Homo sapiens: one gene and its partners. The protein of the gene in region 2 purifies or fractionates together with the protein of the main gene of each other region. This does not show direct contact. Each region holds a gene or a part of one and is shown on either strand. Other genes may lie near its edges.

Region 1 (3,841 bases), on a different chromosome or scaffold from region 2:
GCAATGGGAAAAATACAAAACAAAAACCAGACATCTGTTAGAGGAAATGGAGAACGTAAAATCTATGGCCTAAAGACTGCAATATATTTTTGAGAAATTTTGAAATTGATTAGTTTGGGGGTTGGGGATTGATCCTGCTAACCTGGGATGTACTCAAGCCTTTGGCTATAGTGTGGTCGACATACACGCAGCACGAATGCATTGAGAATGAATGCTGAATGCCTTCTGAGCCCTTAGAGATTACTCATGGATTCTCTTTCCAAGATACTAAATCCCATTTTGCAGCTACTGAAATAATAACCTTAGTCATATTTTTTTGATCTCATCTTTAGACAAGGCCACAGTCAGGACAGACTCAGATACCAACCCAGTTAATGAGTATGCAGATTTCTTAGAAAAGGGGTTGAGATCATTGTGGTCTTTGCATCCAAGATCCTTTTAGGCCAAGCATGACTTGAATATTGACCTCTTTGTTCCTTCCCTATCTGTTCATTACAGAGGATGTGAAACCATATCAAGTTAATGGAGTCAACCCAGCCTATCCAGAATCCCGCTATACCTCGGATTACTTCATTAGTAAGTTCATTTCTACCCCTCTTCTCTCATGATAATAGCAAACTAGGAAAAGACCCCTATCTCAGTGAATCTCAGGCTCCTTCATGGTAATTCTATCAAAAATAATATCTTCTTAGATGTAGACTCTTCTTTGTTACTTTATTTTATTATTTTCCACAAAGCACAAAGTTTCAACCTATATATATGTTTCATTAACCTACCAAGTTCCTACACACTAGGATCCTTCTCTGATGTCTTCACCTGAAAGTCATGCAGAGAGACTGCAACTAGACCCCTAAACTTTTGTTCCTATTTGATACTGTGCACTACGATGGCCAAAAGAGGGTTGGGTTAGGGATTTGATCTTGGTCTTTGTTCTTTCCTTTTTACTAGTGGAGATAACAGCATTTCCTCCAAAATCCTTCTTTAAGAGTGTGCTATGCAGCTTCAAATTCTATTATAGGAAATACAGTCTTCTCCTTTTTCGTGTAAGATACCCAACCATACTGAAGAGATGGCCTGAGGGAAACAATGAATGTAGGCCTGTTGCACTAATGTAAGCTCTGAGATATAGGACCATCTTATCTGATGGCTGTGCTTTTACAGGGAATATGAAACAGGTTTTATTTTTTTCGTTTTATCTTTTTACGTTATTACAATTTTTATTCCAGTGACACAATGATATTAACTACTCTGTGTCAAGAGCTTATTGTGTGGGGAATGTTGGTGGGCATTTGACCTCTATCCTCATTTCATCTTCATCACAGTGCTCCGGGAAAAATCGCAATCACCCCCATTTTAGAGATGAGGATATGAAGTCAGGAAATCAATTACCTTGTCAAGGGCTAAAGCTGTTTAGTAGTGGACAAGGTTAAAAATGCAAGCTTTTCTGATTTAAAGTATTTTCCCTTATTCTCTAAGGAGCTTGTCCCACATCATAGGGCCCTGTAGATGGTGAAAACTGCTTATTTTAGGTACAAATCTCTCCTCTCTTTACTTGCAAACCCTTTGTTTCCAGGCTATGGTATTGAGCATGCCCAGTGTGTTCCACCATCGGAGTTCTCAGAGCCCAGCTTCATCACAGAGTCCTATCAGACGCTCCATCCCATCAGCTCGGAAGAGCTCCTCTCCCTCAAGTATGAGAATGACTACCCCTCGGTCATTCTCCGAGACCCTCTCCAGACAGACACCTTGCAGAATGACTACTTTGCTATCAAACAAGAAGTCGTCACCCCAGACAACATGTGCATGGGGAGGACCAGTCGTGGTAGGTCATATTTCTTCTCTAAAAGCTCTTGGGTTTACAAGAATTACCTGACTTTGTGAGTTTTTTTCAGGTTCCATTTTTTTTTTCTTATTTATTAGACCTGTAGATTCCTCAGTTTCAGCCTTCCCATCTTAGAGTGTCCAGATACTAAGAACTTTCCATCGTGGTGTTTTAGCCAAGTCCATTATTATGACAAAGGCCATGGGGTCCACAGTGAAATCAAAATCAGGCAATCTAAGAAATTAAATATCTTACTTGGGCAAAATGTTTTACTCAATAACTCTAGTTGAATTTGGTCATTTTGAAAGGTATGCTCTATTTTCCTTGAGGAGGACATAATCAAGTAAAAATGGTTCAAGTGGCCACCCTGGAAAACCCTTAAGCTTAGCATGTGTCCTGGTGCTCCTCCCAGAGGACTCCTGGGTCTGACTGTAGATCCTAGCTGGGTACCTGGAATGACCTCTGCTGGCCAGCCTGGGATCTTTAGCCTCCTGTGACTTTTTCGGTTTGGGAAGATACAAGATGGTTAACCAACGGTTTATTTGGAACCAGTCATCAGCAGTGTGGTGAAGTGTGTATTTAGCTAGAGGACCAGGGACGGAGGTGGCCAGGGGTTTCCAAAAGAAGGTAGTTTTGTTAACGTGACTATTATAATAGTGATAAAATATTCACTGTCAGGGAAGAAAGTGTTTAAAAATAGAGCTGGGTGACATAAAGCAAAAAAGGTAAAATGCACCCAATTTTTAGGAACAGGACATAAACACTCAGAGGTACAGCCTACCTAGTAAAGTGTCCAGATTGTTTTGTTTCTGAGAAAAATGCAATCTATTGTAAGAAAGGGTTTGTCTATTTAGCAAGAGCTAGATGATTTCTAAAAAGGTGAAAAACCTGACTTTTCTGGTGGGTAAATGGGAAAGAATTATAAATGGGAAGAGGAACAGGAGAAAGCTGATCAAGCGGGGCTTGGGTCAGATGTCAGGCTGGGGCTGGCCTATTAGTGATTTCTGCTCAATGACTGACCATATGCGGTGCCTATTGTGAGGCTCTTGGAGGAGAGCCCAATGGTACCTTTACTTTGAAGAATCATGGGTCATGCCCATTGTCGTCTTCTTCGAGTATTCAGACTCACACTTCCTCCTAGCAGGCCTAGGGATCACCAACAAGCCCTGCAGAGGGAAAGTCCCTGCAAAATCAGAACCCCTAATCTTCCTTCTTAAGGCCCCAGGGTGTTAGTGTTTCAGACCGAAGGGGATGGGTGGGACCAGTCGGCCTTCCCCTTTCTGGCTCTTTTTTATTTTTGGGTGCATGTCTATTTAAATACATACACACAAGTGTGTGTACATGTGTTTCTTTTTTATCAGGCGAGTCAAAGCATTAAAACGACTTTCTTCCTTGTGGGACTTTCTGTACATCTACACAGTGAGGCCAAGCCTGTGGGTTTGGGCTCAGCCATGTTGTAACTTTGGGTCGATCTCCTGTCACATTGTTTTGAAATTGCATCTGGCTTTGCATTTGTGTAATTGTCTCTTTCCCTCTCCTTTTCTTCATTCTTGGTTTTGGTCCCTACCACCCCTCCAACCCCAAACTAATGACTGTGGACCAAAAGTGACCCTTACAAGGAGACATGAGGTATTTCTTTCTGGCTCCACTCTTCTTCCCTCCCTCCAAGTTCAGGCCACAGAAACTTGAGGGGAAGACCATTTTGTGCAGGGCTGTTTTCTGCATGTTAGAAGTGCTGCAAACAGGGCCTATGCAAAGGGCCAATTGATTCTGAGATGCTGTGATTGGTCTAGACCGAAAGCATTACTGTTAGCTGATTGTTATTTATACTAACCATAGTACAGTATTCACGGGCTGCATTACAGCGTACAGAGTGCTTCTATGCCCCACTTATTTGGGCCCTAAGGACTGTCTTTGTACGAGTCTACTCAGTGGGTGGCTGGGTGCTGCCGCATCTTCTGTTTTGAGTGCTCTGAGGTCTGTTTGGTGGACTCAGATAGCTTTGGAAGGAGCTCGCCG
Region 2 (3,841 bases):
GGAGCAAAGTTAGAAGTTGCCGCTCCTGTTTGCTTCTGACAGGTTATATGCCCGCGCCCCCCAACCAAGGGCACAATCACTTTGGTTGGGTGTACACCTGCTCTCTCTGTTCCCCAAGCCTGGGCCCTGTCTGAGCTTGGAGGTGGAGCCTCAGGGACGTCCTGGCTCAGAAGATGTCCTGGCCCTCTTCCCCACCAGTCCCCAAGCAGGAATGGCAGACCCCCTCTCAAACACAGACTCTTGTCCTTTTTCTCTGCTTTCTGAGTGTGTTTATGGGGTATCTTGGCTTATAGGTCAGGGGTCAAACCGATGACCCCTGGCCCCCGAGAGACGTTGTCTTTCCCAGAGGTTTGTGCTTTTCTGTGGTGGGTGGTGGTGGGTGGGCTGGTCTCACTGCCACCAACTGCCAGTGCTCCTCCAAGGCTCGGGGCCCATGCTGGGGCCCGGGGGCCTTCTCAGGCTCCACAGTCACTGGAGGGAGGCTCTGGACCAGGAAGCAGGGAGGCAGGGTTACAGTCTAGAAGATGGAAGAACCTTGGGGACACTGGAAGGTCATCTGGAATCGGCACACGCGGAGGGACCGGGAAGCCGCATCAGCGTGTGCCCTCTTACCGGGCTGGTTCCTCTCGGGAGGGTGGTCTTCAGGCCTGCGCTGGGCATGGGCCCAAGCCAAGGGTGTGGAGGTGGGACGTGGGCTCCAGACCCACACAGCCTTCCTGGTGCACTGGTGCACCCTCCCTACCCCTCTGTTCTGAGAGGGCTGCAGCGGGGGAGGGCTCCCCGCCCCACAGCCCGTGGCTCTGGTGCGGGGCGGTCTGAGGGCACAGGCTCCCAGGTGGAAAAGTGTGTTGGGTAGGTGGGGTAGGATGCAGAGTGTGGAGGGATGGCCCCGACCGGGTGGCCCTCAGTTGTTCTCAAATAGAGACAGGAGGTCATCGTTACTATTGCTCGGCAGGTCGGGGGGGTCCAGATAAGACAGGAGCTCGTCAGGATTTGTGAGTTCGGGAAGGAGCTGGAAAAGAAGGAGTAATGAAGTTCAGATGAGGTGTGCCTGAGAGGCAGGCCCCGGGTGAGGAATGCAGGGGCGCCCTGGCCCGTCCCCCTCCACCTGCCTCTCAGGACCCTAGCCAAAAAAAGGGGTAGAGAACAGCCTTGGGCTTGGGCCTGCCAGGTATCCCCACACATACCCCGGCCACTGCACCGAGTGTGGGGCACCCCCATGCTCATTTCAAGCCTCAGGATTGGGACCCGCAGCCCACCAGCTGAGGCCTGAGCAGGGCTGACCCTTTTCAGGCATGGACTTCAGCCCTAACCTGGGAAGGCCCCATGGCAGGTCACTTGGGCCTCCCAGCTGAAATCACATGCTTCACGTGTAAGCACAAGGAGGTGGGCTGGTGGGAAGGCGGGAAGGCGAGTGGTTCCTGCACCGCCCCCAACCCCCCAACATCCCTCTTCTCAAGGGCTCGCCACTCCTTGGTGAGCCTGTGGCTGGCTGGCAGCCATCCTTCCCTGTGGCCCCGGAGGGGATGCAGACTGTCTCTACCCTCTACTGAGATATCCTTGGAGTCTGTCACATGGGGAGCCTCATGCATCTAAAAGCAGCCCCACTGGCCTGGTTTGAGGGGGAACACTGGGCAAGGACCTGAGATGGCTGCACAGTGAGTGAGTCCTAGCTAGCACAGAGCTCCTCTGATGCTGCAGGGCAGAGGCTGACAGAGCAGGGCTGGGGGTGAAGAACAGGAGGGGCCGAGGACAAGCCTCCTCCCGGAGTCTGGCACCAGCTCTGTGTAGGCATGGGCGGGGCCGGTGCTCAGTCCCATCCCGCCAGCCCCATCCAGCAGCCCAGCCCCATCATCCAGGGTGACCCCCACCATCTTCCAGACCTCAGGGTAGGAGCCCTGGCACCTCTGCTGCCCATGATGGCCTGCTGCCCCTGGCTGTGACCCAAGGCTGCCCCCTCTGCCCCCACCTTCTGTCACCCACATGGGGGCCTCTTGGAGTGAGCGATGGAGCAAGCAGAAGCAGGGCATGGACAACACGCGGACAAGAAAACTGGAGACAGACACACACCAGCGAGGCAGACAGACGGCCTCTCCCTCCAGCCCTCCCTGCCCGGGCCAGAGAGGCAGACACAGAAACCGCAAGCTCACCATCGGGGGAGGGCAGGGACCCTCCTGTGCTGCGCAAGGGACCCCGCAGGGCTTGGGTCAGAAGGTGGGTCAGGGCTGGGGTTCAGGGCTATGGCCAAAGGGACTGGGGGGACAGGAGCCAGCAGGGTGGGGACCCTCAGTGGTGACACTTCCCCATCATGGGGCTTCCTGGTCTGGAGCCAGGTCTGGGTGAAGCCCTCCCACCGCCCACCCACCTCCTCCCTTCGGGGCCTCGAGCCCTCACACCCACCCCTTCTCTCGGGCAGGTCCCGGCGCCAGGCCTAGCCCCAGGCCAAGGCGAGTGGCGACCCCAACTTACATCCAGCGAAGGCTCCGGCATGTCGGACGCTCCCTGCGCTCCGGCCTGACCCTCTAAGGCTGAGGAGGGGTTAAAGGTCAGGTCGCTGTGTGGATGGCTGCTGGGAGCGGCCTGTGGCGGCTGCCGGGGAGGCTGGGAAGGAGGAGGAGGAGGAGCCCCACTGTGATGTAATGGAGGCCCTGACTGGCTGCTGGGGTGTGGTACGTGCAAACCTTGTTGTATGGAGGGGTGGGGCTGGTCAGAGCTGCCAGCGTGTGGCATCTGTGGAGGAGGAGAGAGCGGGAGAGAAGAGAGGTGAGGTGAGGAGGCACGGCGATGATGCCTGGAGAAAATGAAACCCAACACAACCAGGGAAGTCACAACCCCCGAAACGTGGCCACCCGGTACGAGGCTGAACGTTGTTTCTGGGCAGAGAAACAAAGAAAAATTTCTCCCCCAAAACCGCCCATCAGGGAGGCTGCAGGGGGACGGCGGGGACCTCTCGGGCCACGTGGAGCCCCAGGAGGTGGGGAGGGCTTCGACACAAGCACAGACACGGGGAGCTGGGCCTGGGCTCCCCCAGGCCCCTCCACCTCCCCGCCCAGACAACGAACAACAGCGAGGGCAGGATGGAGAAGCAGAATGGGCATGTTCCGGGGAGCGGGAGGCAGGAGGGCGGCTGCCTCAGCGTGGTGCAGATCCCAAGCTGGGCGGCAGAGAGCAGACACAGACAGACAGCATTGGGCGGGCGTGCGGCTCAGGACTGGGTCTGCACCTCCCAAGTGGGCCCTGGGCAGGGGTGATGCTGGGTACGAAGGCGCCTTCTGCCAGTCCGAAGTGTGGAGCAGCTGGGGCCTTGGCACAAGCCCTGCAGCGCGGGTGGAATTTGGCTGTCAGAGGAGCAGGGCTGGGTGGGCACCTGGCCAGCCAGGGGCATCTTCACACCCTGCCAGACCCTTTTCCTAGACATCCCACTTGGTCGGCACCAGCCCTCAAAAACACAGGGTTGTGAGGGAGGCAGGCACCTCTGGGACTCCAAGGACAAGGAGACTGAGTGACGGTTCACCAATGGTGGGTGTCTTGCTGAGGGTGAGGCTGGCGGTGCCTCTCTAACAGATAACTAGAGGACTCGCACCCTCCTGTGGGCACGTGCACTGAAAACTGGGCTGTCTGTGGGTGGGTGGGTGAGATGTGAACATTCCCCTGCTAGCCTGTTTGCTGTCCCAAGCAGATCCTCCTTCAAAGTGAAAGGCCGGGGAATCCTCGCAGACCAAGCCCTGATCCCACTGCAAGCATCCCTGACAGCCCCCAGCCCCACTTTCGCTCTGCCAGTGAGAGGGGCTCACGGATGCTCCAGGTGCTCCACTGGAACAGCAGCCTGGCACATGCTTCC
Region 3 (3,841 bases), on a different chromosome or scaffold from region 2:
CAACCTCCAGAAACAAGGACTATAGGTAGATTTATCTCTGTGATTAACACAGTGTCTTACCCACAGTAGGTGCTTAATAAATATTTTTTATTCATTGCTCTCTAATCCTATTTTCTTTAGTGCCAGTGACAACGTCTCAGTATAAACATTTCCATCCTTTAATACTGTATTTATTTCCTTAGCAGTTTTCCTTTTCTTCCATTCTATCTTCTGACCCAATGCAATGAAAACTTCTCAAAATATCAGTCAAAACTTCGTTGTTTTTACTTCAACACTGAAATTACAGCCAGTAAGAGTAAGGCTAGGCCTACCTAGAAGAAAATTAGTGATATGTATGTCAGTCTTAAGGTTTTGATATTTTTATTAAAACTGAAAATACACATCTCCAAATGGGGAAAAAAATTATATAGTGTTAATGTTAAGAACAAAGTTGATTCCAACCTCTTGAGACATAAACACAAGCATGAGGATTATGGACAGAAACAAATCCGTATTCCAGGAACAGCCGTTGATTATCGTGAGGGCCGTAACAGATGAATACCTCTTCATGCTTTCTCCAACGTGAAGTCGTTCTAATTTCGTAAGAATGAGTTTCTTCATTAAACGCTGCTTTTACCTAGAAAGAAAAACTGTTAAGGTATTTTTTAAAGTAAGGTGTAAAACTCCAAAGCTGATTAAGTTATTACATAATATTAATGTGAGTCAGGTGCAGCTTTCAAACACCCATCAATAAATGTAACTACGCATAGGGAAAATGCCACTTCCGGTTTCATCCACCTCGACTTCACCCCATTGATGACGGAGGGAGTCCTGCCCTAGGGCTCTGGGGGTGGCCACACCACGACACCCGACACAGCACAGATGAGATCATCAGCAGTTTATTGGTCACGTCCACTCACAGCCCAGGGAAGGAGGACATGGTGGTGCCAATAAACTTTATCTGTAAAAAGCTAGAGAGTAAATACGTTCAGCTTTGCCAGCACTATGTGGTCTCTGTCACAAGTTGTTGTATTTTCACAATCCTTTCAAAGTGTAAAAACCATTCTTAGCTCAGGGCTCTTGGGCCACACGCCCACAGGCTGTAGTTCGTGCTGTGGTCTTCCTACAGTAAACTATAAACTCATTGGTTTGGCACATAAATGCACCAAAAGTCCCAATAAAAATAAATCACTGCTGACGGAGTCCCCATGTCTAGCATCCTATCACACTACACACTCCTGATATTATTTCGTCAACATCAACCACAGAAACACTCACCTAATCCCAGGCTCCTTTGCTCCCGATTATTAAAGATACTTCTTTCTACAAAAGTAACAAGCAGACAGCCCTTGTTCCTGGGCTAAGAAAGCAGAGCGGGAACCTCCCTAAGCTCTGATCTCACGTAGAGAGCACGAAAGCTTAGCACGTGGGCTCACAAGGCATGGCTGCTCTTCTCCAGTGGAATGTCAGATGAAGGCGACGGCCAGGACACAGATCCCAGCCATGTCCCTCCACAACACACCCCAAAGTGGTTACAGGTGAGCCAACTGATGGACTCTCTTCCGCTCTCCAAGCCAGGCCTCTACCCCTGCATGCCCTGCAAATACACTCATTTCCTAAATGAGCCACCTGGGGAAAGCGCTGGGGAGGAGGCGATCTGTGACCACCTCCCAAATCAGGTTTCTTTCATTATTTCCCAGAACCCTTTCCCCACAAATACCCATCCATTCAATAAACATTTACTGAACACCTACTATGTGCCAGGCCCTGCCATGAGCACTGAGGTGACAAAGAGGAACAAGACAAAGACCCCATTCTCAAAGATTTCAGAGCTCAGTGGGAAAAAGAGCAAGTCAGTCAGCGATCAGAGCGAAGAGAAATGCTGTGACAGCTACAACACCAGTTTAAAAGGGACGGGGCAGGAAAGCAAGCTAAGCTTCAGTCCCGGAAGGAGGAACGAGGGAGAAGGAAGGAAGGCTCCGCACCACAGGCTGCTGGGAAAGACCGGACAGAGGATGCAGCACGAGGCTCTGTAGGCCTGAAGAGCAGAGTGAAGAAAAGGGGCCAAGGCAAGCACTGCGGGAGGGATAGTGGGGTCTAGAAGAACAACAGGAGCCTCCTGACGTCAGGCCAACCTGACAGGGTCACCTGAAGCCGCCGACACCTCTCCCTGTGGTGCCACCCACATCTACAGCCACAGGTTCTGGGCAGCGGAAGCCTTCCTATCCAAATAGAATAGCTGCTCCCTTGTCAGCTTCTCACCTGGACATGTGGGCTATGATTCAGCAGGTCCAGGTACGGAGCGAGTGCACAGGTGTCCGGCTCTGCAGAAAGGCATTCCCGCTGCCTGGGCCTCAGGTACACGGCTCTGGTGTTGACGGTGCACCAAGCCCACAGCAGGGCACTGTAGCTGAAGATGCTGTCAACAGCCTCCGCAAACAGAGGCTGCAGAGAAGAGAAAAAGTCTCTGGAGGAAGCAAAGAACTCCTGCACGTGGGCTCTCTGCTCTTCAGCCTTTGCTTTTAAAGATTTGGGAAGAAGGTTCACCACTTCCGGCTCCAAACAAACAGGGCAGGTATACGCCTTGGGTAAAATCTCCAGGTAAGGCTTCCAAAGAGATCGGTGCCCAGCATGCTTTTCTGAAACTAAAAAGGTGCACAGCGCCAGCAGAGGAGATGGAGGAGGCTTCCACCTTTGAAAATTAAAAGCCAGTTTAAAGGAATTACTTTGATTCAAAATACGAAATAAGCCAAGCAGTTTGTTTTGCTGCCAGAAGGAGTGTGTTCAAACTGTCAACACACTCAGTTTACTTAACAGACTCAAGAGTTCCTTCCTTCCTTCCTTAAGGCTCTTCCTCTCCAGGGGAGCACAGCCCCAGTGCTAGTGCTCTGAAAGAGCCATACTTACATGTCAGAAAAACTGACTCACTAAGCCAAGTTCCAGGTTTGTTTGCAAGAGATTCCTCTTTGCAAAAAAACCTCTTTGCTTCCAACTTGGTTCTCCAGTTGTAAACCTTTTGACCTAAGTCCATTTGTCTCACCTATGTAAAGATATAAAATATGGTGGGGAAAAAATGGTGGAAAGAACTGAGACCTGCACCATCCGATATAGTAATCACTGGGTACACAGAGCTATTTAAATTTAACCTTTAATTATTTAGAATTGAATATTTAAAATTCAATCCCTTGGTAAGATAAGCTATGTTTTAATTGCACAATAGCCATTCAGAGCTAGTGGCCACCATACTGGACAATGCATAAAAAACATCTGTCATTGCTAAAAGCTCTATTGGAGGGCACCAACCTAAACCAAAACTGAATATGCTCATATACAGTTGTTGCAGTTCTAAAGCTTTTATTCCTAAGTTTACCTGCTCTATTACAAATTATGTATCACAGTATTTTTACTTGCACAATTGCCGATAAAAAGATCTCATGTTGCCTGAATGTATTTAGAAAGTTTTCATCAATCCTTCGACATCCAGATTCCTATACTGCCATACATTCTACTCAAAATTTCAGAATGATTCAGAAAATGTTAACAATGACAGCATCATTGTCTCTACACAGGCCTAAAAGACCTATTCACTCTCTTCCAAAAACATGCCAGGGGGAAAAAAGACCAGCACTTACCTAATGGTTAAGAGACAGTATACGCCAGGCACAGTGGCCGTTTGCCTATATCCCAGCACTTTGGGAAGCCAAAGTGGGTGGATCACTTGAGGCCAGGAGTTTGAGACCAGCCTGACCAACATGGAGAAACCCCATCTCTACTAAAAATACAAAATTAGCAGGGCATGGTGGCGCACACCTGTAATCCCAGCTATTTGGGAGGCTGAGGCATGAGAACTGCTTGAACCCGG
Region 4 (3,205 bases), on a different chromosome or scaffold from region 2:
GCACTCCAGCTCAGGGGCGACAGAGCAAGACCCCGTCTCAAAAAAAAAAACTTATGTAACTTCCCCATTTAACTTTGTTTCATATTAAAGAATACTATCCCCACTTCTAGGACCCACCCCCACCCCTCAAAGGCAAACGATTATGTGTTCCTTCCTATAGCAGACAAAATGACCATCTTATATTGGAAAAGTAAGTTATTGCTAAGTAATATTCTCAAATTTTGTTGCAATCAGCTTTAAATGATTCTGATTTGAGAGATATGACCCTTGAGTGACAAAGCCCATTTCACCATTTACACAGGGAAAAAAAATCTCTTTAAAGCACTATATAGTTAAAAACATTGACAAGGAAATTAAATTAGTAGAGCTATCACTTTGATGTGATGTACATGGTAAGATTGTAAATACACCAACTATAATATAGAATTTAATTTTATCTTTATGAAGTATTCTGAAATAAAAGACGATAATACATGCATCAGGCACATTCGACAGAAGACTTTTACAATGGTTTACATTTCCTTTTTATTTATTCCTTGAAACTGCTCGTATTGCAAGTTTTTCACGGATGAAATATGGAACTGAGCAGATTCTTTTTTTCTACAAAATTATGGTATAAACTTGCTCAATTTTCTATCTTATTGCTAATAAACCTTACAGGCGCACAGTTTGTAAAATAAACCCCTTAAGGACTGAATGCGTAGAGCATGCTGCAAGGTACAAGAAATAAGCTAAAAATGAGCATATAAACCTACATCTGGACCAACACAGTACTGAATGCTGGCAAACATTTATCACAACACAGGGGAAAATTAACAAAAGGAGATACAGTTCAGTCCTGAAAGGGTTAAACAGAAACCCTAATATATTATTGTTTCTAACCATCCATCCCACATTACAGTGCTTGAAAACAAAGTCATAAGTCTGGCACAGAAAATTACACACATTTGTTCAGTACTTATCAGAAACACAGCTGCTTTTGCAATCAAAGTAACTTGGTTACTAACTGAACAGCATTTTGTTTCAAAAGGAACCTCCTCCCCAGTGGATTTTCTGGTTAGCATGACTAGTTAGGTTAGTTCTCAAAAATGGCATTGGAAGTTTTTTGTGAAAGCACAGATGGTACCAGTTTCATTAAAAACAATAAAACAAAACAAAACAAAAAAACTAACCAGTTATGATTGCAGATAAGTCTGTGCAGTAAGAGTGACAAACATTTCACGATTAAGTCATGTATAAACATGCCTTTAATTGCCACAGTTTAAAGAAAGTGAGCAGCAAATTTAGATAGTATACTAGTGTTCAACGCTGAAATCACTCAAAATATAAAGGGCATTTTTAAGGCTTTTAGCTTGCCTTCCCAATCTATGTGATAAATTAAATGGAACAAATAAAAACATATTGGATCAGAGACTCAGCTTCTATGTGTATGTTTAGAAACTGCATAGTCATGAGAGCATAAGATACATTTCTAAAACAGAATTTTTTAAAAATTCAAACATACTATAACTGAAGCACTCACCATTCTAATAAGAGAGTCTTTCTGAGGGTAAATGACCAGCATGTCTAATAATGCCATCACTGGAGGAGGGCACACAGTCTACTATAACCAGAGGACAAGGTTCCTATAAATTACATACTGAAAATGATTCACAAAACCATGAAAGAAAAAATGTAAGCAGCTGACAAAAGAACTACTGATAAACAATAAGCTACAATGGACAAATCATTTCACTCTTTAGTCTGTGGTATGAGAATGGCCAAAAATAGGTGGGGAAAAATGCCTGTATAAGTACATTCTTGGACTTTTCAAAAAAAGAAAAGAAAAGGGTTTACAGTATAATATTTCAATTATCTTACGGAAAGAAACTATCAAAATAAAACATACATGTTTGTTAAAAAAACACAAGTTCATTTTAATAAGGTCATGAACTTGAAAAATTATTTTTGAGCTACAAAAATGGGTAAGGAATAGTTTGTTCTTCAAAAGTATCTCTTTTGTTATTGGTTAATTTAATATGATTCCTTAACTAAATACCAAACCTAGGAAGTGGAGGAAACTTGTGGCCGTTAAAGCAAAGCAGCACTAGGAACATGTCCATGCTCTGAACAAAAGCACTGTGTAATGATTCCTGCCATGACTCCATAGAGAGGAATAACTACTACTCAGAAATAAGTGGTCTGTAAGAAAGAGACAGTGAACAATTACAACAAAGAAAGATAAGGCCACAATGAGTTCTGCCCTTGATCACTGAAACAGATTTAAGGTGTGAGGCAGGATTAGCTTATAAGAGAGAAGTGAGTGATTGGAGCAGATTTGAAGAAAAAAGGCGATATAGAATAAAATGCAGCCTGGGGGTGATTAAAAAGGCTTGCAGTAAGAGAAAACCGCAATAACTGATTTAACCACCTAACGTGCTTTACAAATGACCTTCCCCTTGAAAACTGAGGAAAAGGCGATTTAAAGATGTTAGGAAGAATATTTACAGTGGCATAGTCTGAGCATAGAGTGAGTGATGAAGACAGCAAAGCTGGAAAAAAAATGCTACTAATAATAATTTCTAAAAAGTCTATTAATGGAAACTTTTTCAAAACAGCCCAGGACACCAGAAAGACAATGTTCTGTAGGGAAACACTGTAGGAAGTTACAGTTTTGCATTCATAAGGTACTGTGGCTCCTGTTTTATGGGACAGTAAAAGCTTACCACAATCTAGAGGTAGTTTTTACTCTAAGAGGGATGATTGTATTACTAGACTGTGTTGTATAACATTACACACGTGGTTCCTGTACTAAATGTAGCCCAATGAGTCTGCTGCAATTTCGAAGAAACCAAACAAAGGCATAAACAAAGTTCAGGAATGAAAGCACGGTAAAACCGGCGGGGTTAGCAAGCAAGGCCAACCTACAACCCTGAATGCAACCAAATCTCAACTGAAAAGAAAAGAAACATTTTCTGAGTTAGGAGACATTTGTGGAGATGCTCAGTACTGGAAAAGAGAAAACAAACAAACAAAAAAGGCAGAGAAAAAAATGAAAACATAAGTTACATTTGCATTTTATAATCTTACAACTATCTGTTTCTAAAGTACTGTCTTCCAGCTATTTTAGTTGATCATCTAATAAAAGCATCTTATGTTTTAAGATTACAATGATGTTCTGGCTAGGCTACCCCCTCCAACCCCCCAAAAAAGTAAAGATAATAAA
Region 5 (3,841 bases), on a different chromosome or scaffold from region 2:
TGCTTTTGCTTAGTGCCCTAAAGGAAATCAAAGTCCTATTAAATACCACCTGATAAGAGCTCATGTCTTCATGCATAGCCGCATATTAAAGATTTGAAATGTTCTTTCTTTTTAGATGGAATCTTGCTCTGTCACCTGGGCTGGAGTGCAGTGGTACAATTTCAGCTCACTGCAACCTCCGCCTTCTGGGTTCAAGTGATTCTCCTGCCTCCTGCCTCAGCCTCCCAAGTACCTGGGATTAGAGGTGTGTGCCGTCACGCCCAGCTAATTTATTTTTATTTTTTTAGTAGGGACAGGGTTTCACCATGTTGGCCAGGCTGGTCTCGAACTCCTGATTTCAAATGATCCACCCACCTCAGCCTCTCAAAATGCTGGGATTACTGGTGTCAGACACTGAATGTGGCAAAAATGTTGGTTTTTTTTTTATTATTTATTTTGAGATGGAATCTCACTCTGTCGCCTGGGCTGGAGTGCAGTGTCACGATCTCGGCTCACTGCAACCTCCGGTGCCCAGGTTCTAGGGATTCCCCTGCCTCAGCCTCCTGAGTAGCTGGGATTACAGGCACGTACCACCACGTCCGGCTAATTTTTGTATTTTTAGTAGAGATGAGGTTTCACCATATTGGCCAGACTGGTCTCAAACTCCTGACCTCAGATGATCCACCCGCCTTGGCCTCCCAAAGTGCTGGGATTACAGGCATGAGCCACCGTGCCTGGCCAAAAATGTTCTTAATAAAGCAAATTAAGTTTGTTGGCCAGGTGCGGTGGCTCACGCCTGTAATCCCGGCACTTTGGGAGACCGAGGCGGGTGGATCACCTGAGGTCAGGAGTTCGAGACCAATCTGGCAAACATGGTGAAACCCCGTCTCTACTAAAAATACAAAAAATTAGCCTCAGCTACTTGGGAGGCTGAGGTGGGAAAATTGCTTGAACCCAGGAGGTGGAGGTTGCAGTGAGCCGAGATCACCCCACTGCACTCCAGCCTGGCGACAGACGGAGACTCTGTCTCAAAAAATAAATCAATAAAACAAATTTAAAAAATAAAATACATTTGTTTAGCCAATATGTGCAGATGCTCAGAGGGAAAAAGAATTGTTTAGCCCAGTGTTCCTCAAATGTGTTCCACTGTAACTTTCAACAGCCCATGAAATTAGTGTTCCATGGAACACCTCTGGGGAAAGCATCTGGCTAAAGCTTAAGATCCACCTTAAAAGTAAATTCTTTTTTTTTTTTTTTTTTTTTGAGACAGTCTCGCTCTGCCACCCAGGCTGTAGTACGATGTCACAATCTCAGCTCACGACAACCTCGACCTCCTGGGTTCAAGTGATTATCCTGCCTCAGCCTCCTGAGTAACTGGGATTACAGGTGTATGCTACCGTGCCCGGCTAATTTTTGTATTTTTTACCAGAGACGGGGTTTCACCATTTTGGCCAGGCTGCCCTTGAACTCCTGATCTCAAGTGATCCGCCCACCTCAGCCTCTCAAAGTGCTGGGATTACAGGCGTGAGCCACCACGCCTGGCCAAGAGTCAATTCTTTAAAGCCTTCCAAACTTCACCAAAAAGGCATCCCCCTTCCTCAATATTCTCACAGGCTTTAGCCCTGAACTCGGCTTTGCAATGACCTGTGTATCATCTGCTCCCACTTAGGCTCCGCGATACAGGTTCACCATCTACCACGATTCCTGGCTCCAGCAGGACTTCAATGTTGGTTGAAAGAACCACCAACTGAACGCTGGGAATTGTGGAAAAGGAGTGGAAAATTCCCAGGTTTTTACTCTGGATGACTGGGTTAGGGAAAATACTTAGAAGGAACATATGATTTGGTAGGAAAAAGGGAAAGTCCATTTTGGATATGTGGGAAATATATCCTGGAAAGATGAAAATGTCCAGCAGACAGCTGGAAATGTGGATTTGAAATCTGGAAGACAGATCTGGACTGGGGATTTGAAGAGTATTATTACAGGTGACAAATGAAGCTATGAAAGAATCAATAACATCACCCAGGGGAAAAAAAGAGTGAAAATGGCCAGGGATATAGTTGCCTAGAGAACACTAATATTTTTAAAGTGCAAAGAAAGTTTCTCAAGCCATAAAACTAGGAATTTCCCTTGAATACTCCCCTCTCCTGCCCGCAAAACAAAGCCATCTAGTCCAGCAACCCAGTCCTGTCACCTCTGCCCTCAGGAACTGTCCAAAACCCATCTCCTCTTCTCCATCTCCACTGCTACCACCAGCCCCAGCCCTGGCATCTAGAGAGCTACAAAAGCTTTATATGCATCCACTCCTATCCACACCAACCCCAGGCATCCTCCACCTAGCACCAGAACCATCTTCCAAAACTTAAAGATCGGCCGGGCACAGTGGCTCACACCTGTAATCCCAGCACTTTAGGAGGCCGAGATGGGCGGATCACGAGGTCAGGAGATAGAGACCATCCTGGCTAACACGGTGAAACCCGTCTCTACTAAAAAAAAAAATACAAAAAAATTAGCCGGGTGTGGTGGCGGGCACCTGTAGTCCCAGCTACTTGGGAGGCTGAGGCAGGAAAATGGCGTGAACCCGGGAGGCGGAGCTTGTAGTGAGCTGAGATTGCGCCCCTGCACTCCAGACTGGTCAGCAGAGCAAAAAAACCTAAGTTGGATCATATCATGTTTCTGCTCCCTATCCTGCTACTGCTTCCTACTGCACTTGATCTGGTCCTAGGTGCCACGCTGCTCCAGACACACTGGCCTGCTTTCTGTTCTTCATGCCAGCTCAGAAGGGTCCTAACTCAGACACTTGGTACTGGTGGTTCTCTCTAACTGGAATGTTCTAAGACTTTCAGCTGACTGACAGCCTCTCAATCATCAAGCTCAAATCAAGGCATCTTAAGCTACGACTGTCATTTAGTATCACATGACTCTGCTTTTAATTTTTGCTTAGCACTTATTATAACAAAGTTAACAAAAATATTGACCTCCTCTTTCTCCATGACAGCAGAATTTTAATTTGTCCTATTCGCTACTGTACACAGCAGTTCCCTTGGTGTCCATGGGGAATTGGTTCTAAGACCCCTGCCCAGCCTCGCCGGGACACCAAAATCCAAGGATGCTCAAGTCCCTTACATAAAATGGCCTAGTATTTGCAATAATATATACACATCTTCCAGGATACTTTAAATCACCTCTAGATTACTTACAATACTTCGTATGATAGAAATGCTATGTAAATGTTGTCATATTTTTATTTTTTATTTATTTTTGATGCAGGGTTTGGATGTCACCCAGGGGCTAAGGTGCAGTGGCGCAATCATAGCTCGCTGCAGCCTTTACCTCCCGGTCCCACGCAATCCTCCTACTTCGGTCTCCCGAGGAGCTGAGAATACAGATGCATGCCACCATGCTTTTATAGAGATGACATCTCACTATGCTGCTCAGGCTGGTCTTGAACTCCTGGGCTCAAGAAATCCACCAGCTTTGGCCTCCTGAAGTGCTGGAATTACAGGTGTGAGCCACCATACCCAGCTATATTTTTATTTTTATTTTTCTATTCTATTCTATTCCGTTCCGTTCCGTTCTATTCTATTCTATTTGAGAGATGGAGTCTTGTTATATTGCTAAGCCTGGTCTAAAACTCCTGAGCTCAAGCTATCCTCCCACCACAGCTTCCCAAAAGTTCTGAGATTACAGGCATGAGCCACCATGCTGAGCTGCATATTATAATTTGTGTTAATTGTTGTACTGTTATTTTTTTACTTTTTTTTCCAAAAAATATTTTCTATCTACAGTTGGTTGAATCCGCAGATGCAGAATGCGCAGATACGGAGGGCTGATTGTACTCTGGCCCACAGCAGGTGCTCAA
Region 6 (3,841 bases), about 48 Mb from region 2:
GGAAGGAAATATGACACCTCCAAAAAATACAATAATTATCCAGCAACAGATTCCAATCAAAATAAATTTATGAAATCCTGGAAAATGATTAAAAATAATGATCTTATAAAAGCTAAGTGAGATAGAAGAAAACAGAAAAGCAACACAAAGGAACCAGAAAAACAAATCAGGATATGAATGAGAAATTTACCAAAGAGGTAAGTATCATAAAAAAGAACTAAACAAATTCTGGAATTGAAGAATTCACCGAATGAAAGACAAAAGACAACTGAAAGCTTCAGCAATAGATTAGGTCAAGCAGAAGAAGAATTTTAGAACTTGAAGACAGGTCTTTTAAAATAACCTAGTAAGAGAAAAAAGAATAAAAGAACAATGAACAAAGCCTGTGTGACATATAAGAAACTATAAAGTAACCAAATATTCGAATTTTTGATGTGTTATAAGGCAAAGAGGAAACAAAAGGGATAGAAAACCTATTTAATGAAATAATATCCAAAAATTTCCCAAGTCTAGCAAAGGATTTAGACATCCAGATACAGAAAGCTCAGCGCACCCCCAAATAGATACAATTCAAAAAGATCTTCTCCATGGCACATTATATTCACTGTCAAAAGTAAAAGACAAAGAGATATTCTAAAAACAACACGAGAAAAGTGTCCAATCACTTGTAAGGGAACCTCCATACGACTAATAGCAGTTTATCAGCAGAAACTTTATAGGCAAGGAGAGAAAGAAATGATATATTTATTCAAAGTATTGAAAGAAAAAAACCCTGCCAGCCAAGAATATCATACCCAGCAAAATTATCCTTCATAAATGAAAGAGAAATAAAGTCTTTCCTAAACAAGTAAAAGCTGAGAGAATTCATGACCACTAGACTGGCCCTACAAGAAATGTTTAAGGGAGTCTTATCCATGGAAGTGACAGGAAGATATCTACCATAATGAAAACACATGAAAATATAAAATCCACTGGTAGAACAAGTACAAATAAGAAAGAGAAAGAACTCAAATGTTACCACTATAGAAAACTATCAAACCACAATAATAATCAGTAAGAAAGAAAGGAACAAATGATACACAAAACAACCAGAAATCAAAATGACAGAAATAGGCTCTAACATATCAATAATAATAACATAAACGGATTAAACTTTCCACTTAAAAGGTACAGATTGGCTGAATGGATAAAAACTGTGACCCAGCTATGTGCTGCCTAGAAGAAATTCATCTCACCTGTAAAGATCCATATAGACTGAAAGTAAAGGGACAGAAAAAGATGTCCATGCAAATGGAAACCATAGTGAGCAGGAGTAGCTATAATGAGATAAACTCTTAAATCCAGTAAACAAAACAGTATAAGGGGACAAAGAAGGTCATTAAAGAATGACAAAGGAATCAATTCAGTAAGAGGATATAACAATTCTTAACATATATGTACCCAAGACTGGAGTACCTGGCTATATAAAGGAAATATTATTAGATCTAAAGGGAGAGACAGATTCTAATACAATAATAGTTAGGGACTTCAACACCCCTATCAGCATTAGACAGATCATGTAGAAAGACACTTAACAAAGAAACACTGAATTTAAACTGCATTTTATACCGAATGGATGTGAGACACTTACAGAACATTTTAACCAACTACTAAAGGATACATATTCTTGTCATCAACACACAGAACATACTCTAGGATAGACTGTATGTTGGGACCCATGACAAGTCTCAAACAAATTTTTAAAAATCAAAATCATATCAAGTAGCTTTTAGACCACAAAGTAATACAACTATAGATTTTAATAATAAGAGGAACTTTGGAAACTCTACACACACATGAAAATTAAACAACATGCTTTTGAATAACCACGGGGTCAAGGAAGAAATAAGGAGGAAAATTTAAAATTTCTTTAAATGAAATTAAAATTAAAATTTCTTTAAATGAAAATCAAAACAGAACATATCAAAACCTATGAAATATAGCAAAAGCACTAAGAGGAAGTATATAGCAATAAATACCTAAAACAAAAAATAGAAACATTTCAAATAATCTAACAATGTGCCTCAAGAACTTAGAAAAGCAAGAACAAAGCAAACCCTAAATTAGGATTTAAGAAGGAAAGAAATAATAACAATCAGAACAAAATCAATGAAATGAAGACTAAAAAACAACACAAATAACAAAACAAAAAGTTGGTTTTTTTGAAAAGGTAACAAAACTGATAAACCACTAGCTAGACTAAGAAAAGAACAGAGAAGATGCAAATAAAAAATGAAAAAGAAGACTAACAAATGATACCACAGAAATACAAAAGAGACAATTATGAACAACTATACATGAAAAAACTGAAAAACCTAGAGGATATGGATAAATTCCTGGACACAGCCTACCAAGATTAAATTAGAAAGAAATAGAAAACCTGAACAGACCAATAATGAGTAATGAGATTGAATCCATAATGAATATTTCAAGTCCGGGACTGAAAGGGTTCACTGCTGAATTCTACCAAACTGTCAAAGAAGAGCTAACACTAGTTCTCCTCAAACTATTCCAAAAAACTGAAGAGGAGGGAATTCTCCCTACTTCATTCTATAAGTCCATCACTATCTTGATACCAAAACCAGAGAAAGATGAAACAAAAAAAGGAAAACTATCCAGGTCAATATCCCTGATGACAACAGATACAAAATCCTCAAAAAAATATTCACAAACTAAATCTAACAGCACGTCAAAAAGATAATGCAATATGATCAAGTGGGATTTATCCCAGGGATGCAAAGATGGTTCACCTCCATATAATAAAGGACATATATGACAGAACCACAGCATACTGCATGGAACAAGCTGACAGACGTCCCTCTAAGAAGTGTAATCAGAAAAGGATTTCCACTCCTTCACCACTCCTATTCAACACAGTATTGGAAAGTCCTAGCCAGAGCAATTGGGCAAGAGAAAGAAATAAAAGCCATCCAATTTGGAAAAGAAGTCAAATAGTCTCTCTTTGCAGACTATATGATCTAATATCTAGAAAAACCTAAAGACACAACCAAAAAACTGCAATCTGCTAAATAAACTGAAAGTTGCAGGATACAAAACTCAACATAAAAATCAGCAGTGTTTCTGTACACCAATAATGAACTAGACGAGAAATAAATCAAGAAGACCATCTCATTTATAGTAGCTACAAAAAAGTAAAATACCTAGGGATAAATTTACCCAAGAAGGTGAAAGACCTCTCCAAGGAAAACTACAAAATATTGATGAAAGAAATTGAAGAAGACACAAGTAAATGGAAAGACATCCCATGCTCATGGATCAGAAGAATTAACATCATTAAAATGATCATATTGCCCAGAGCGATCTACAGATTCAATCCAATCCCTATCAAAATATCTATGTCATTTTTCACAGAAGCAGAAAAAACAATCCTAAAACTTTTACGGAACCACAAAAGACCAATATAGCCAAAGCAATCCTGAGCAAAAAGAACAAAGCTGGAGACATCGCACTACCTGACTTCAAAATATAATACAAGGTACAGTAAGGAAAACAGCATGGCATTAGTAAAAAACAGACACACAGACCAGTGGAAGAGAACAGAGAACCCAGAATAAAATCCACATTATTAACAGCCATTTGATTTCGACAAGGCACCAAAAACATACACCAGGAAAAGGACACACTCTCCAATAAATGGTGCTGGGAAAACTGAATATTAACATGTGAAGAATGAAACTGGACTCCTATTTCTCACCACATACAAAAATCAACTCAAGATCAATGAAAGACTTAAACATAAGACACAACACCATAAAACTAGAAGAAAACATACAGAAAACAC

What was found.
Region 1: the proteins of ZMIZ1 (region 2) and ETS1 purify together in Homo sapiens (affinity purification with western blotting, with the first as the bait; one study listed by BioGRID). This does not show direct contact.
Region 3: the proteins of ZMIZ1 (region 2) and SETD4 fractionate together in Homo sapiens (co-fractionation; one large-scale study listed by BioGRID). This does not show direct contact.
Region 4: the proteins of ZMIZ1 (region 2) and RBPJ purify together in Homo sapiens (affinity purification with western blotting; one study listed by BioGRID). This does not show direct contact.
Region 5: the proteins of ZMIZ1 (region 2) and MAML1 purify together in Homo sapiens (affinity purification with mass spectrometry, with the first as the bait; one study listed by BioGRID). This does not show direct contact.
Region 6: the proteins of ZMIZ1 (region 2) and ZEB1 purify together in Homo sapiens (affinity purification with mass spectrometry, with the first as the bait; one study listed by BioGRID). This does not show direct contact.

The regions. Positions count from the first base shown.
Region 1 is NC_000011.10:128,482,804-128,486,644, reverse strand, and holds part of ETS1 (protein C-ets-1), read left to right. Parts: intron 1-498; coding exon 499-576; intron 577-1,573; coding exon 1,574-1,822; intron 1,823-3,841. UniProt on the Homo sapiens protein: Transcription factor. Directly controls the expression of cytokine and chemokine genes in a wide variety of different cellular contexts. May control the differentiation, survival and proliferation of lymphoid cells.
Region 2 is NC_000010.11:79,309,813-79,313,653, reverse strand, and holds part of ZMIZ1 (zinc finger MIZ domain-containing protein 1), read right to left. Parts: intron 2,731-3,841; coding exon 2,470-2,730; intron 1,013-2,469; coding exon 905-1,012; 3' UTR 1-904. UniProt on the Homo sapiens protein: Acts as a transcriptional coactivator. Increases ligand-dependent transcriptional activity of AR and promotes AR sumoylation. The stimulation of AR activity is dependent upon sumoylation.
Region 3 is NC_000021.9:36,043,341-36,047,181, forward strand, and holds part of SETD4 (SET domain-containing protein 4), read right to left. Parts: intron 2,672-3,841; coding exon 2,242-2,671; intron 630-2,241; coding exon of another isoform or gene 617-629; coding exon 442-616; coding exon of another isoform or gene 419-441; exon of another isoform or gene 344-418; intron 312-343; coding exon of another isoform or gene 247-311; exon of another isoform or gene 1-246. UniProt on the Homo sapiens protein: Protein-lysine N-methyltransferase that methylates both histones and non-histone proteins. Via its catalytic activity, regulates many processes, including cell proliferation, cell differentiation, inflammatory response and apoptosis.
Region 4 is NC_000004.12:26,432,219-26,435,423, reverse strand, and holds the end of RBPJ (recombining binding protein suppressor of hairless), read right to left. Parts: 3' UTR 501-3,205; downstream 1-500. UniProt on the Homo sapiens protein: Transcriptional regulator that plays a central role in Notch signaling, a signaling pathway involved in cell-cell communication that regulates a broad spectrum of cell-fate determinations.
Region 5 is NC_000005.10:179,739,085-179,742,925, reverse strand, and holds part of MAML1 (mastermind-like protein 1), read right to left. Parts: intron 1-3,841. UniProt on the Homo sapiens protein: Acts as a transcriptional coactivator for NOTCH proteins. Has been shown to amplify NOTCH-induced transcription of HES1. Enhances phosphorylation and proteolytic turnover of the NOTCH intracellular domain in the nucleus through interaction with CDK8.
Region 6 is NC_000010.11:31,504,053-31,507,893, reverse strand, and holds part of ZEB1 (zinc finger E-box-binding homeobox 1), read right to left. Parts: intron 1-3,841. UniProt on the Homo sapiens protein: Acts as a transcriptional repressor. Inhibits interleukin-2 (IL-2) gene expression. Enhances or represses the promoter activity of the ATP1A1 gene depending on the quantity of cDNA and on the cell type.